2 separate regions of the Homo sapiens genome follow, and region 2 is linked to region 1. A link means that fine-mapping ties the variant in region 1 to the expression of a gene that starts in the linked region. Tissue or cell type: whole blood. Region 1 holds a variant in brackets; the other region holds the start of a gene. All regions are shown on one strand. Distances are from middle to middle.

Region 1 (8,103 bases):
ATCGTCACCTCCTAGCATTATTCTCCCTTCCCACCGTCCCCTATGTCCGTTTCGATGTCCAAGTAAACTGGCTCTACTCTCAGTCCCAGGGCTGGAGCATGTGATCTGATCTGAACCAGTCAGTGTATTCCATCCCCTGGCCTAGTAATTGGTTCCAATTTGGGGGTGGACTGAGATTGGTCCGATAAGAGTAATACCAGCCTCTGAGGAATGACTTGGACCTGTAGTGATATTTGCATGAGACAACGAAACTCTGTCTCTCTCAAAGGATGTTAATGAGGAGGCATGCAGGCCTGGGAGCCACTGGCAGACCTCTTTGGACTCTAAAGGGAGCCAGCTTTAGGATGAATCTGATGTCATAGAAAGGAAAGTAGAGGGAAAGCAAAAAACAAAAGTAGATATTCTGTTACATCATTGAACGGCTGAGTCACACTTCACCTGAGCCTTTCGGTTTAGCAAACGAATGTCATCTTGACATTTACTTTAAAAGCCCATTTGGGTTCTTGTGGTTTCCTGTTCTTTGCAACTGAAAACATCCTGAGCAGGTGGCTACCATTATTATCCAGATTTTGAAGATAAGAAACTGTGGCACAAGAATATTAAGTGATAGGCCCAGGGCTACCGGGCTGGTAAACAGAGGTGGTAAACCCAGAACATGCAATGGTAGCCTCAACATATAACGATTGGCCACTTGCCATTTTCTTCTGCCTTTAGGAGGTTGGTCCTCTGCACTTCTGGTCTCCACTTGACACCCAGGAGGAGGTACCATCACACCCCAGGACCTGCTGTGCTGGCGTTGTGTTTCTGCCGGAGTCACCTCTGTGAGTCGCGGGAGAGCCAGTCACCTTCGTATGTGTGCACACGCATGCACGGTCACAGAGGAACGTGCCTCCAGGGGTTTACCGTGCATGAATACCCGGACTATTTGGATGCTTTTCTTCAGGTTCTGTAGTTCTCATGGTCATGAAGCCCTCCACTAATAGCAGTTCATTTTCTTGACTTATCTTTACAAAAATAGGGTCATAGGATTTTCCCACTTTACAGGGTGAGCAAACAGAGGCTCAGATGAGAAACCTGACTTACCACTGGTGGCAGAGTGGGAAGTCAAATCAAGACATCAGTCCAGCATTTTTGACTCATCCACTCGATCATTGGTTTTTAATCTTAAGACGACCATGACCCACACTCAGGGCAGAGAGTGAAATGGAGGGAGAGAATGAAAGCTTAAATTTAGGTTTAGAAATAAGCAGTCCAGGCACAGTGGCTCATGCCTGTAATCCCAGCACTTTGGGAGACCAAGATGGGCAGATCACCTGAAGTCAGGAGTTCGAGACCAGCCTGACCAACATGGTGAAACCCCGTCTCTACTAAAAATACAAAAAAATTAGCCAGGCGTGGTGGCAGGTGCCTGTAATCCCAGCTACTCAGGAGGCTGAGGCAGGAGTATCACTTGAACCAGGGAGGCAGAGGCTGCAGTGAGCCGAGATCGCACCATTGCACTCCAGACTGGGCAACAGAGTGAGACTCTGCCTCAAAAAAATAAAATAATAAAATAAAATAAAATAATCAGCTCTCAGTCCAGGAAAAAACCCTGGCTGGAGAGGGCCTAGATGTTCTGCACCTAGAATGATGGAGCCCTAGACAGGGCTGAAACATCTGTTGCTTCCTGATGCTGTTCAACCTGCTCCTGAAGATTCAGATGAGCCTCTTTCCAGAGGCTCAGAGGGTACATACGAACAGTTTATTCCTGGGACACTGAGTTTCGAGATGCCTTCCTGTTCAAAAAGAAGGCTGGGAGTAAAGCCTGGTAGGGGAGGTGCAGATGTTGGTCGGGACCCTTCAGATAGTTGTAGAGGGGGATGCAAGCTGGAGGGGAGGTGGTGGAGGCCTCAGGGACCCGGGGAGAAGGCCTGGATGGGCAGAGACTCTGGGAAGGGCCTGGAAGCCTGTCCGCAGATGTTCCTAGAAAAGCCCCATCATCTAGTTCTCCTAGACCCCAAGCAACTTTATAGAGCACATTTTAAAAGATATCATCTTGGGCAAAAGCTCCTTTTGTTCACTAGATCTTATTGAAAGCATCCCCAAATTTTAAATTCTTCACTTTGAATGGAAATCATATAGAAATATTATCACTATGTGCACTGAGATTTGGATGACCCTAAATCATCATTTTGAAGAAAAATGCTGAAAAGGCAATTATGTTTGAGCTAAAATAACAAAATGCATTAAACGTAAGCAGAATGAGTAAAATATCCTTACCCTTTCAAAAGAGAGAGACAGAAGAAAGGGCTCTGGCCCAGCACTTAACAAATCTTGGTTCTGTTTTTTTGTCACTCATTCATTCAACTCTTCATTCCTTTTTTTTTTTTTTTTTTTTTTTTTTTGAGACAGAGTCTCGCTCTGTCGCCCAGGGTGGAGTGAAGTGCCACAATCTCGGCTCACTGCAACCCCTGCCTCCTGCGTTCAAGTGATTCTCCTGCCTCAGCCTCCTGAGTAGCTGGGATTACAGGCGCCCGCCACCACGCCTGGCTAGTTTTTGTATTTTTAGTAGAGACGGGGTTTTACCATGTTGGCCAGGCTGGTCTTGAAATCCTGACCTCAGGTGATCCTCCCATCTCAGCCTCTCAAAGTGCTAGGATTACAGGCGTGAGCCACCATGCCTGGCCTCTTAATTTAATAAGCATTTGGTGAAAGCCTGTCTTGAGTTACGTACTGGCTATAATCCACAAAGAAGCTTCAGCTCCTGACCCGAAGGAGTTTACAGTGTAAGGTGCATTCAGTCCCTCAACCAACAATTGCACCATAGGCCGTGCTCTGTAAGGGATCACAGAGTCCCCCGGCTGAACGAGTTCAGGGACAGCCTTTCCCGTGATCTGACATTTAATGCAGGACCTTAGAGATTTTCTAGAAAAAGGCAGAAGGAAGCCTGGAGGAGAGAAAAAGTGATATCTTGGAACATGCATCTATATCTGGTGTGACTGCAACCACGTGTAGTATGTGGTGTGGCGTGTGTGTGTGCATGGGTGTGTGGCGTGTGAGTGACGAGTGTGCTGTGTGTATGTCTGGTGTCTGCGTGGGGTGTGTGCATGCACGTGTGTGCATGTGTTGGCACACAGGGAGGTTAAGCATGGTGGGAGGAGGATAAGCACGGTCCGGGTGACATCGGAGACATCCCTCCTGCAGCTCAGGGAGCCCTGGGGAGCTAGTGTGCCCACTGGGAGCATCTCCCTGTGCCACCTCCTCTGGGCCCATCTGGACTGGCTCCAAGGCAGGATGGGAGGGCTGAGCTCGAGCTACCCTATCTCCCAGCTGTGGGATTTCTCTAGGCCCTGCTCCCCTCAACCTCAGGTGGCTGTCTGAGAATTCAGTTTCTAAAGACTCCATGAGCCACAGGCAAAAGCCAGGGTCCTTACTCAGTCACAGCCTGAAATTTGGCTGTCGGCCTCCAGGCTCTGGTCTCTTAGCAACCAGCCATGTGGGCCCAGGGCAGCTGCAGGGCTCTGCTCCAGGCGGGCTACACCCAGGGGCTTTGGAGTGGGTCCCCAGGCCACCTCTGGCAGCTGAGGTGTGAGGACGGCCAGGCACCGTCCCTCTAGCCTTGACCTCACTCTCCTGGTTCCACCCCCAGCCCTGCTCCTGCACCTGAGCTGGCGTAGGAGTGCTGCCACAGCTCTGCCAAGCCCTGGGCGATCGGCCCGCGGGCCCTGGTGGAAAGAGCCTCTCTGAGCAAAGCTGCTGCATTTTCTCTTCTCCATGTTCAGTGTGCCCCACATGCTCACGTCTTCCTACCAAGCCCCCAAAGGCTCCAGCTTCTGCATGAGCTCCAGGGACCGTCAGCCAGGTGCTCTATTCCCAAGGGATGAGGGCTGGTGGACCCCATGCCTGCATCTGCCCATCTTCATCCTACATATCCTTCCAGGCCCAGTTCAGACACCACCTCCTCTATGAAGTCTTCCCCAGTGACCTTGTAGAAATTTCCCTTCACACGAGCCCAAGAGGCACCTCACTCTCATTCTGGCTTTTGCCCACAACTCAGAAGCTGGCATTACCTCTGCACCCACGAAGCCAGTCTTCCAGGTGCCCCATGTGGCATGTGGGCTTTCCTGGCTTTTCTTCTCATCTTCACTGACTGGGAAGTTGGTTCAACGGCGTCTCACCCTTGACAGGCTCAGAGACTGTCTTGCTCCAGGAAGTGAGAGAGAGAGAGTGTCTCAGAGAAGACCCTGATTGGCCAGTTTGGGTCACATGTCCGCCTCTGAGCTACACCCTGTGGGCAGCCCCAGGCACACACCTGCTGCTAGGATCTGCAAGCCCTATGATACAAGGCCCTACCAAGAGCACCACCTGTGTTGGCCTATTTTTTCAGTGCCCCTAGATACCTCTTCTAGGTCATTTCTCAGATATTACAAGTAGGCTTGCTCCCAATCTACTTTCCCCAACTGTTTCCTGCCCATCCCTCCATCCACTGCACCCTTCCCTAAGGCCAAACTGGCCCCTGCCTTCTTTCCCAACTCCACTCACCTCTGTCCCTCCATGCCTGCATCTGCCATCTTCATCCTAAATATCCTTCCAAGCCCAATTCAGGTACCTCCTCCTTTAGGAAGCCTTCCCTGTGCCCATTCAGAAGTTTCCTTTCATACAAGCTGCATCCCACCTCTTGTTCCTCTATTCTCCCTCATGCTCTGAGTCAGAAATACAGCATGTAACACACTTGCCCAAGATTCCGGTCGCTCAAGGGCAAATCTTGTTCCCCATTTGGACCTGGACTGGCCCTGAGTCTAGGCATCCCTTTTTGTGTCCCTTTATTTCAATGGAAGAAGACACCACATTAGAGCATGTAAGGTGGCCTGGGCGTGGTGAAAGAAGACCTGGACCCTCCTTCCAGGCCTCTGCCTCATTTCTTTGTTAATTGGCTATTATTGAGCAGTTGCTATGTGTCTGAAACAATTTTCGGCTTTGAGAAAGTAGTCTTCAACAAGTTTCTCTCTTCATGAA[A/G]TTCACATTCTAGTTTGGTAAAGTGGATAATATGTAAAAAAATAAGTAAATGTTCATGATGCAGATGGTGCTAAGGGCTATGAAGACAGGTAAGGCAGAGGAAAGAACAAGTGAATGCACCCAGTAATTCATCCATCTATCCATCCAGCCGTCCACCCATCCATTCGCCCACCCACCCATCTACCCTGCTACTCACTCATCCATCCTTCCATCCACCTACCTATCCATCCATCTGTCCTTCCATTCTCACACCCATCCACCTACCCACCCATCCATCCACCTGTCCATTCATGAATCCACTGGACTCATCAACCCATGTAGTCATCCACTCACTCATCCATCCATCTACCCACCCCCTCATCCATTCACCCACCCACCCATACATCCACCTACTCAACCATCCACCCACCCCCTCATCCACCCATCCACCCACTCATCCACCCTTTCACTCGTTCATACATCTACCCGTCTATCCACCCACTCACCCACCCACTCATCACCCACCCACTCATCCATTCATCCACCCACCCATCCATACATCCACCTACTCATCCACCCACCCACATACTCAAACATCCACCCACCCCCTCATCCATCCATCTACCCACTCATCTTTCATCCATCCACTCATTCATTCACCAATCCATCCACCTACCCATCCATCCATCCATCCAGTCACTCAACCATCCATCCATCCACCATCCCACAATGACTCACGAAACACCAAGCCAAGCCTTGTGTTGAGTACTTTAACTCAGACATGGTTCTTGATATCAAGGAGCCCACATTCTGGTGAGGGATGTGGGTGTGGATGTGCAGTATGCTGAGTTTCTCAATTCACTGGGTTCAAGTGAAGTGCCATAGTAATGAAAGTGAAATTGAAATTAATTCTGACCCCAGAACCCAGGCTTCAAAGAAGAAGAGCTTGACAAGGCTCGCTAGGGATAAGCAGGAGCTCACCACTAGGGCCAGGGGAAAGGCATTCCAGGAAGAGGAAATAGCAAAGCCTCAGAATGCTAGAAGAACACGACTCACTTAGGCAACAGAATCATCTGAAATGCCTACAGTATCAGCTAAACAGGGATGGGGCGGGGCCAGATAATAAAGAGCCTTCAGTCCATGCCAAGCAGATTATTGGGGGTGGTGGGGGCAGCAGGGAAGGCACTGAAGGGTTTTAAGCAAAGGAGTAACATAAAGATTTTTGGAAAGCCATGTCGGCATGCACAGAAAGGCTGGATGGAACATGTATTGACATTCAATGAAGGTCCAAGCAGGACATGATGGTCCAGGCAGGACACAATGAAATGGTCTAGGCAGGACATACTAGAAGCTTAGACTATGACACAGAGACAGAGACAGAGATAGAGTTAGAGATAGAGATCGAGATAGAATGGAGGGGAGAGGGAAGAGCTTCACAAGGGAGGGTGTTTGAGGGAGAAGGGATGTAGGTGCGTGACGAAGCCATTACTTGGATGGACAGTAGAGGCGGAAGAGGAGGTCTGAGGGTAGAGGATGGATTCCACTTAGGGGCCATTGCAGGTGAAGTACCTTTTATTTATCTGGGAGAGTATGCCAGGAGTGGCTGAAAAAACTGGAGACCCTTGACTTCTGTAACACCTTGTTCTCCAAATTCTTCTGTCCCTCCTCACTCTTAGGAGGGCTCTGGTTCTTCAACCTGCCTCTCTCTAATGCTGATGTCCTGGGCTTTCTCTGGATGCCCTTCTCCTCACCCCAGGAGGACTCATGCTTGGCAGGGCTTCATTTCTTACCTGCGTGGGGATAACTACCAGAGTGGCACGTCCAGCATCTCTCCTGAGCTCCAGAGACATGCAGGATCACGCTGGGCCAGTTAGCATCACAGAGTCCAGCAGCTTAAGCAAGTAAGGAGTTTTGTCTCATGGAAAAGCCCAGAGATCACATTCAGCTGGTTCAGTCCAACAATGTCATCAGTGCCAAGGCTCCCTCCCTCCTGTCACTCCATCATCCTCTGCCTGTGACTTTGATCCCCATGGTCACAAAATAGGTGCTAAGACCAAAACACTACCTCTGCATTCCAGGCAGGAATTTTTTTATAACACAAAGTTCCAAAAAAGGAAAATGGCAGCTGGCTCTGGTCCTTTTACAAAGCTTTTCTAAAAGCCATCCCTAGTGACTGTCACTCACATCTTTTTTACCGTAACAGTGCCATCAGGCCACCTCTAACTGCAAAGGAGGCTGGGAGAACCAGTGCTCTAAATGGGCATATCGCAACTCTGACCAAAATCAGGGAGAGTAGCTATTAGTTAGGCAACTGGCAGCATCCACTACCACCTCCAAGCCTTTATTCTGTCTTCGGTTACCTCCAAAGACACAGAGTTCTTTCCCCCCCAGGGTCGCATACAGCAGCTGGGTCACCTGAGAGGAGGCCACAGAATCCCCAGCCTGGGCTTCTCAGCCCACCAACTCCTGCTTCTGGGGTGAAATCTGGGGTCTGGCAATTTCACAGGCTCACCAAGACTGTCAGTCTTATCAAGAGTGCTTGGAGGCCAGTCATCCAACCGGACCCGCTCATTTTCCCCAACATGTCTTGGTAATAACGTTTCCTTAAACATCACCATCAGGATCCTCTCCAAGACAAATCACCGCTCAGACCACACAACAGCTTTTCTGTTATCTCTGCGTAACCGGCCTCCATGGTGTGATAAACAGCCCAGGATTGAAACATTGCTTCTGCAAATTGAACTCTGCGGGGCCGGAGGACTACCATTACGTTAATTATATTCCAAAATTTTCCATTTATCTCCTGCCCGCCACTCCAGGTCCCGGGCGGATCCATTTGCATTTATGAATGCACAATTCTGGCACCGGCAGCTGGTGCTGGATTGTTCTGCCTGCATGGCTTCCTCTCTGAGATGCTCTCTCTCAGCCATCTCTGGGACCTCTGCTCTTCCTCCCTCCTTGTGGGTTTACTTGAAGGAGAGCCTTGCCAGGGAGCAAACTCTTTGCTTTAAATATACTTCGGTTTGACTCTCCAAAGATGAGGTGGGCCCGGTGGCCTCTGAGCCAATTACCATATTATGCTAATCCTGACATTAACATATTACCTGCATAATGGCTGGTCTATTTTTA
Region 2 (8,103 bases), 40 kb after region 1:
CAGAACAGAACTGAGCACAAAGAGAAAGTGATCTGTACACCTCCCATTCATGGAATGGTGGCCCTGCTGTGTGTCTTCCCTCCGATCACGCTTAAAGAGCACCATGGTCCCACCTGAACAGCCTTGGCTGGAGTCCAGGGGAACCTAAAGCCTGTATTCAGGCAGTTGTTCAGCAGGGCAATTGGGCTAACAGAGTTGATGGTGAGTGGGTGGCAGTAGTCTGCGGACCCCAGCAACCACTGAATGTCCTTGACCTTGCAAGGCAGCGGTTCTTCAGAATCGCAGTCACTTTTCCCAGCATCATCAAAACTCTTAAGAAGCCAGGCCCAAGGACCCAATCTCTGGGATCCCAAGACATATACATGTCTTTAGGTGGGTGCGGAGGTTGTCCTTCTGCAATCAAGCCAAGACCCTTCAGACAGGGGCAGCTGAGCCCAGGATAGGAAGCCCTATGGTCCAGGTCATGTCAATGTGGTTCATTTGGCATTGAAATATGGCGGAACAGCACAGTCCAAAGGGCGTGGCCAAACTCAGCCACAAAATGATTTCTTGGTCATCCCCCTGTGAGGAAGGATGAGGTCCTTCAGAAGGAGGACATGCATGCCAGTGCTGCATTGTCACCACACTAGGACCACGGCAGTCCACAGCTCTTTGCTTTTACAAATGCCACCAAGACCCTGGCTGGGTTGCCAGAGGCAGACACCCCCCCCGGCCTTAAGTGCTTAAGGATGTTTCCCGAAGGGAGTCTGTTTTCCCTTGGACAAAGGCAGCCCATCTGATTGCCCAGGCACGGGGAGTACATGCTACAAGGTGCCTTTGGAGACCCACAGATGGTGCGTGGGTGGCTGCAGGGCTGCAGTGAAGGCCACATGGCACCTGAATAGAGATGGGAACAGGTCTCAAGCTGGGCAAGGCTCGCCATCAGTGACAGGGGGTAGAAGCAGGAGTGACTGAGCATCAGCCGCTGTGGCACTGCCCATGGAGATCCTGGGCAGCAAAGGGAGTCGCTGGTATCCACCCTTAGCCTGCTATGACCCTCAGGCGTGGGTGTGTAGGAACCTGCAGCCTGATAGACCTGCCCAATGGCTGAGAGTCCACCACGACCTTATTTAGCAGGCAAGTTCCAGATTCCCCAAGCCTCTGGCTCCATCAGAACACCAGCAGCTGAAGTCAGGCATTAACAGAGGTGCAACATTGGTCCTTCCCAGTGAGAGCAGTGGGGCCTCCCAGACTGCATATTCATGTGCAGAGTGGAACCTGGCCCCCAGACATGGCAGAACTACGCTCCTTGCAGCAACCACTCGACCACTACAGCACAGATGAGGCCCTGCCCGCTGCACCGGGCCCTGGCAGGGCTGGGAGGCATCTTGGGCAGGAAGCCAGACCCCCTCTCCAGGTACACCCATCAAGCCACCAGCCTGGCCAAACGGGCATCTTTCTGTCCAGAGCTCATCAATAGGAACTGGGCAACCAGGTGGGGAGCCGCCAGGGGAGCTTGGAGAGGGCAGAGTAGGAGCCTCCATGAACCAAGTCAGGCTGGAAGGGGTCAGCCCTCGTGGTCCGTCAGCGTGCGGCGGAGTCCCTGTGCCTAAGTAGCAGAGCGGTAGTCATTGAAACAGGCCGGGATGCCAGCAAGAGGGAGGCGAGCATGCAGTGAGCGATAGGTACAAAGCTAGCACGTAAGAGGAAGCACGGCAAGGTGGGCAACCAGGGCGCCAGGAAGGACGGAAGGAAGATCTCCTCGGGGAACACGTCTGGAGAGGCAAGAAGGGAGGTCTTCAAACAGGGGCAAAGCTGTCGTATGGGCATTTCTTCTACACAGCAAAGAGCGTATGCTACCTGGGTGGCTGCAGACGCTACCAAGTGCTGGCGGATTCTTAAAGATTCCGTGCTCGGGCAGGCAGGGCTGGCGCTGGACTAGTCCCGTTGGAAGCTGGATGCACTGGGCAAGGCCCCGTGCCCGCAGAGGCCAGCTGGCGGCAGAGCATCTGCCTCTCTCGCACAGCCCTATTAGAGGCAGAAGTCTTCCTGATTTGGGCGCGCCGCGCATGCCGGAGCGGAGACTTGTAGGTTCTCCGCAACTCTGCCAGGAACCCCTGATAGTTGTTGCGCAAGGGGCTGTCAGGTTGCATGTGGGGGATAGCCCACTTCTCCGCCTCCCCAGTCAGTCGAGACACAAGGAAGGCCACACGCTCGGCCTCACCCGGGAAGCGGGAGGCCTGGAAGATCATGAATCTGTCCATCTGCATCAGGAACCCCGCCAACCGGCCTGGGTCCCCGGAAAAGGGCTCGGGCAGAGAGGTTGGAGGTGTGGTCATGGGTCGAGTCCCGTTTGAAGTAATTGAGGAGATGGGCGGGGTGATCTGCAGAGCCCCCGGGATCCGCGCCCTGGTGCGTAACAAGGTCAGCTCTGCCATCACGCTCTCCAGCATGTTGGTGAGATTGGCCTTCTCCGCCCGCAGGGTGGAAGCCTCCCGCCTCAGCGCCGAGTTGGTGAGGCGCAGGGAGGTCAGGGTGTCAATAACGTCATCCATCTGGGCATTCGGAGACGCTGCCAAGGCTGGGCTTTCAGCTTTGGACGTCTGCGGCTGCACCATGCTGGCCAGAGGTCAGCCACACGCTGAGATCCGCGGGTGGACCAAGAGGGTGTGGTGACCAGGTGGGCCCCTGTAGAAATGGGGGCAGTGTGGGGTGCACGACGGCAGGGCGCTGCGAGACCCCCAAGCCGAGGGCCCGAGAGAGGGGCACGCGGTGCCAGGCCCTAGGGACTTCGGCCCCGGTCCCACGCGGCTCCTTTACTGCAGACTTCGCGGACTACGGAGCCAGACGGGTGGCTGGACCTGCTCTGGGCCCTGGAGGATTAAGAAAAGATGTTTTCAAGGTTTCAGTTGCGACTAGCGGGCAGGAGGGTGAGGGGCGGCGTGGAGGGCCCGCGCGTGGGTGGCGAGGCTGCACAAAGCCCCGCGGCGCCCGCCCCGCGCCCGCCCGGGGGAGAACAAAGGGGGCTGCTCCTTGGCGGCCGCGGGCCTGGGGGCCACCACAGTGGCGGGGCCCGGCCGGGCAGGGGGCCGGGGGCACGCGTACCTGGGGTCTCGCGGTTCCTCCGCGGCTCTGTCCGCCGCCGGCCGTGACCAAGATGGCCCGCGCGGGGGACGCGGCCAGGCCGATGAATCACCGCGCGGACCGCCGAGAACTGCTTCCCGGTCAGCGCAGCCAAGCGACGGCGCTGGCGATGGCGGCGGGCGGCCTCCGGCAGGTGCAGGGACCGGGCCAGGCCGGGGCCGGGGCAGGGGCGGGGCCGGGGTCGCGGCAGAGGGCGGGTCACCGCGCGGCCTTTGTGCGGGCGGGGCCGGCGCGGTGGCGGTGGCGGGCGGGCCTTAGGCTGGCCCCGCTGGTTGCCATGGATACCGACCGCTCCCGCGCGTGCGGAGACGACCGCTGCCCCGCCCCCGGAAGTGATGCACAAAGTCCCACCCCCCCCCACCCCCCAACTCGGGCTGCTGCCAATCGGGGAAGACTGTAGTTGCTGCGGCGTCTTCATCAGGGCGGGTACCTGGTGTTCTCCCAGTCATTCCTCCCAAGAGGGCTTGCAAGGCTCTTTCTGTGGTTGTCATTGGGTTTATTTTTTTGATGATTTACTGTTCTTCTTATTTTTTTTTTTTTTTGAGACGGAGTCTCGCTCTGTCGCCTAGGCTGGAGTGCAGTGGCGCGATCCTGAGTCACTGCAACCTCCGCCTCCCGGGTTCAAGCGATTCTTCTGCCTCAGCCACCCAAGTAACTGGGATTACAGGCGCGTGCTACCATGCCCGGCTAATTTTTGTATTTTTAGTAGAGACGGGGTTTCACCTTGTTGGCCTGGCCAGTCTCCAACTCCTGACCTCAGGGCATCCGCCTGCCTTGGCCTCCCAAAGTTCTGGGATTACAGGCGTGAGCCACTGCATCAGGCCCTTATTGTGATTTGAATATAAATTTAATGTAACAAATCTTGATGTAAGAGAAGTAAAAAAAACTTTATACTACTCAGACTCCCTCCACCTAAAGATAGCAAATAGTAATACATATATATGTAACGTAGAGATAGTAATATTTCTGTACTTCCATCCAGTCATTTTTCTATGATATGTTCTACAAAATATTTTTTACCTTATGAATATTTTGTAACCATAACAGCACATTGAATTTTGAGCATTTTCCTATTAAAGATAGTTCAGAAGCATGATTTTCAGTTATTGCCTGTGGTCCATGGAACTCCTGTACCGCAAAGTATTTAGCCATGCCCTTTTTGATAGATCCTTATCTTGTTTACCATGCTAAAGTTTTATAAACTACACTTGTATATAAATCCCCACCCTTTTCTCTGCTGGGTTCCCCAGAGTAAATACCAAGGAGTGAAGATACCTGGCTGATATGGTTTGGCTGTGTCTCCACCCAAATCTCATCTTGAGTCGTAACTCCCACAATTCCCACATCGTGGGAGGAACCTGGTGGAAGGTGATCGAATTATGTGGGCAGGTCTTTTCTGCACTCTTCTTGTGATAGTGAGTGAGTCTCAAGAGATCTGATGGTTTTAAAAAGGGAAGTTTCCGGCCGGGCACAATGGCTCACGTCTGTACTCCCAGCACTTTGGGAGGCCAAGGCGGGTGGATCACGAGGTCAGGAGATCGAGACCATCCTGGCTAACATGGTGAAACCCCGTCTCTACTAAAAATACAAAAAATTAGCCAGGCGTGGTGGTGGGCGCCTGTAGTCCCAGCTACTTGGGAGGCTGAGCCAGGAGAATGGCGTGAACCCAGGAGGCGGAGCTTGCAGTGAGCAGACATTGCACCACTGTACTCCAGCCTGGGCAACAGAGCAAAAGTCCATCTCAAAAAAAAATTAAAAAAAAAAAAAAGGGAAGTTTCCCTGCACAAGTTCTCTCTTTGCCTGCCGCCATCCATGTAAGACCTGACTTGCTCCTCCGTGCCTTTCACCTTCTGCCGTCATTGTGAGCCTCCCCACCACACAGAACTGTAAGTCCAATAAACCTCTTTCTTTTGTAAATTGCCCAGTCTCAGGTATGTCTTTATCAGCAGCGTGAAAACAGACTAATACACTGGCCAAAGGGTAAGAACTGTTTGATTCCGGGTCTGGATTCCCAGCTTGACCTAGGTGATCCTTCTGCATGGTCAGTTTCAAGCTGGCATGGCTGGAGAGAAAAGATACTGAGAAATAAAAATAAAAATTTAAGCCCCCCCCCCCCAACCAACTGAACAGACCCCCTCTTGGCCAGGGGACCCCAGAGAAACCTGGGAAGCCGAGTTCCTGGCCATGATGGGATGGGAGGTTGGACACACTTCATTATCTGCCCCCGCTCCATAACCGATAACCACCATTAGGCTTTTTTCCTTAAGAGTTAAACAGAAACAAGCCTCTTTGAAAGACTTCAACATTGATACCAACCAACCATCTGACACTGCCCCTCCCTTTTTGTGGCACACAACAACTGACCAGCATTCTTTCCTAGTAAGAGACCACCAACCCTGGAGTGGTTCTGGCCAGCCTGTGGAGGATGTGCAGTGAAAGCTTTTGTGTCCTCTGATACACCTTTTGACATTAGAGGGCTGAAAACTCCACCTTCAGATCACGCTAACACTGCCATTTTTTGTAGGTGCTACCCATGAAGGGGGATGAAGCTCAGTTGCACATGTGCATATTTCTCTTCTCATAAATATTTATAACTCCTCCTGTAGCTTATTGAATATGTATATTTGGCCACCCTGATCAACATAAATTCCTGTCTTACTCTTCCAACCCTTGAAGTGCCTGTTTATGGCTTCTGGCCAGAGGCTACACTTCCCAGCCTATTCAAATGGCCACTCTGCAGGGTGCAACCTTTTATGATAAATAAAACTCTCCTTTCCAGGTTTATGAACCTCGTCATTCTTCAGTTAACAATACCCAGTATGCCAGTCTTTTGAGGACACAGTATTCAAGGAGGCTGAAGCTGGGAACCATCTGCACTCTTTAGGCAGGCCTGGGACAGAGCTGGATTCACTCAGACCTGCAGTTTTCACTCAAGGGAATTAGGGCATAAGGATGTTGTTACTGAGCAAGTGGTCTTGCTGCCTGATGCACACGGAAGCCGATACATATGGCACCAGCTTTTGAGAAAAGAAAAGCTTTATTGCAAAACTGACCAGCAAGGAGAGAGGAGGTGGGCTCAAATCCGTCTCCCTGATTTGAGGTATGGGGCAAGTTTTAAGGGATCAGGTGGCAAGAGAAAGTATTTATCAATGCTGGCTTGCCAGGGTCTGATTGGAGGGCTTCAAATTTGACCATATGTGGTAATGTATATTAAAGTAGATTTTAGCCCCAGACCTTCCAGGCTGATGGACCCCTTTGCTTGTGAATGAGTTCTGGTTTTCAACTTCTGGTCATGTCCCAGTCTTCTTGGTTCTAAGAGGACGAATCATTGGTTCTGGGTGTTGTTGGAGGTCAAAGTTTTTTCTACGGCACATGCCCAGGCTACATGACTTGCAGTTTTGGGCTCTGTTCTACCTAAAAGGCAGCTTGACATTTTGTTACCAACAGGGTAGGCCCAGTTTGGGCTGGTCCCACAACTACAGTGTCAGAACTTGGAAAGGATACTTGTACCCCAGTGTGCCAAAGTGTGCACCCTTTGTGACCAGGTGAAAACTTCTAGAGCATGAAGCAAGAGGGAAATAAAGAAGACTGTGTGTCCTTAAACTTCTTCCATGAGACCTTCTAAATCAGATGGGGGCAGGAGCTGTGTTAACCTTGACTGAGGTCAATGACTTCAAAAGCAGAAATGAGCCTGCAGCCTTCTACCCCTCCAGGTTCTTCTAAACACACAGAGGAATCCCATCCACTCGTGGGAGTCACTCCATCTGTCTCTCTGTCTCTCTGTCTGTCTAGGCCCCTGGATACTGGGCACATTAGTGAAGTGTCTGCTGCAATTCTAAGTGTGGTTGACACCATGAATCTTAAATTCCCAGGTGCATTGAATATAAGATGCACCCCAATTTCAGAAATGATAAAACATTTAAAGAAATAAATAATTTATCTGTATTTCACTTTACTTCCAAGGGGAAATTAGATGGCAGCCCATAAAATAGAGCAAAATAAAAATTAATGGACTTTTAAAAGTAAAAACAGGAGAAGAATATTTGGCTTCTCATCCAGATGAAGCTATGATTCATGCCCTGAGGTGCCTGTCTGGGCTGTGAACACAGAACAATAAAATATGCAAAGAAAATATTGAAAGGATATAAGTGGGCTCCAATCGATAAACAAGATAAACTTCACAATGGTCCAGAAACACAAACTTCTGAGTATTGACGTGGGCCTGCCGGGCTCTGGACCTGAGACATAATAGGGACCCAAGGCTGGGAACACAGCCAGGCTTCCTATTTGAATCCAGGGGATGGAGGAGAGAGGAGTCACCCCTGTGTCAGAAAAAAAGTCTGAAAAATTGGATTCAGTCATTTCATGGGGGTGGGGTGTGACAGTTTATGTGAAAGTGTGGCCCTGGGTCAAAGGAGAACACAGATATAGTCATCTTAATCTCTTGTCCCCTGGTTTAACAAGTAGACCAAGAGGGTCAGGATTCCAAACCACCAACAAAATATATATACACATATATATTATACACATATATGTATATATGTATGTATATGTGTATGTGTGTGTATATATAATATGCATATATGTGTGTGTATATATATATATTTCTTTACCACAGACCAGACATCAAGTGGACCCACCCCAAACTGCTAGATGGGGGAAGGGAGTACCAAGAGAGAAAGAGAGACAAAGTCTTTCAACACAAAATGAGTCTGAGATTCAAAATTCTGAAGCCCATGAAGACATCTTATGCTAAGAATAATAGTCAAGAAAAATCAATAACTGTAAGGTGAATTAACTCCAGAGGAAATTAAAATAATAGAAGAGTCTGAAAAAAACAGACTTTAAAGTAAGTATATTTGGGATGCTCAGTGAGAACAAGGAAGGAATAATATTTGTGAAAAGAACAGATTGTGGAGAAAAAGCCATATTGTACCAAGATCAGGTACCTGTGAAAAAGTACCTTTTAAAAGAAAATGT

The links. PIP is the estimated chance that this variant, and not a neighbour inherited with it, causes the effect.
Region 2: RTL6 starts here. The variant in region 1 is fine-mapped to the expression of RTL6 in whole blood (INTERVAL, PIP above 0.99).

Annotation. Positions count from the first base shown.
Region 1 is chr22:44,455,024-44,463,126 of GRCh38, forward strand. No RefSeq gene overlaps it. Among named protein-coding and RNA genes, the nearest start is that of LINC01656, 16 kb to the left of the region's middle. RefSeq lists an enhancer at 564-713. The variant A/G (reference allele first, on the strand shown) is at 4,996.
Region 2 is chr22:44,494,960-44,503,062 of GRCh38, forward strand. RTL6 (retrotransposon Gag like 6) reads right to left here and starts at 3,274. Exons shown (of 2, transcript NM_032287.3): 1 at 3,085-3,274; 2 at 1-2,852. The coding sequence starts at 2,597. The coding sequence ends at 1,878. RefSeq lists enhancers at 390-1,167, 1,168-1,945 and silencers at 3,205-3,334, 3,425-3,484.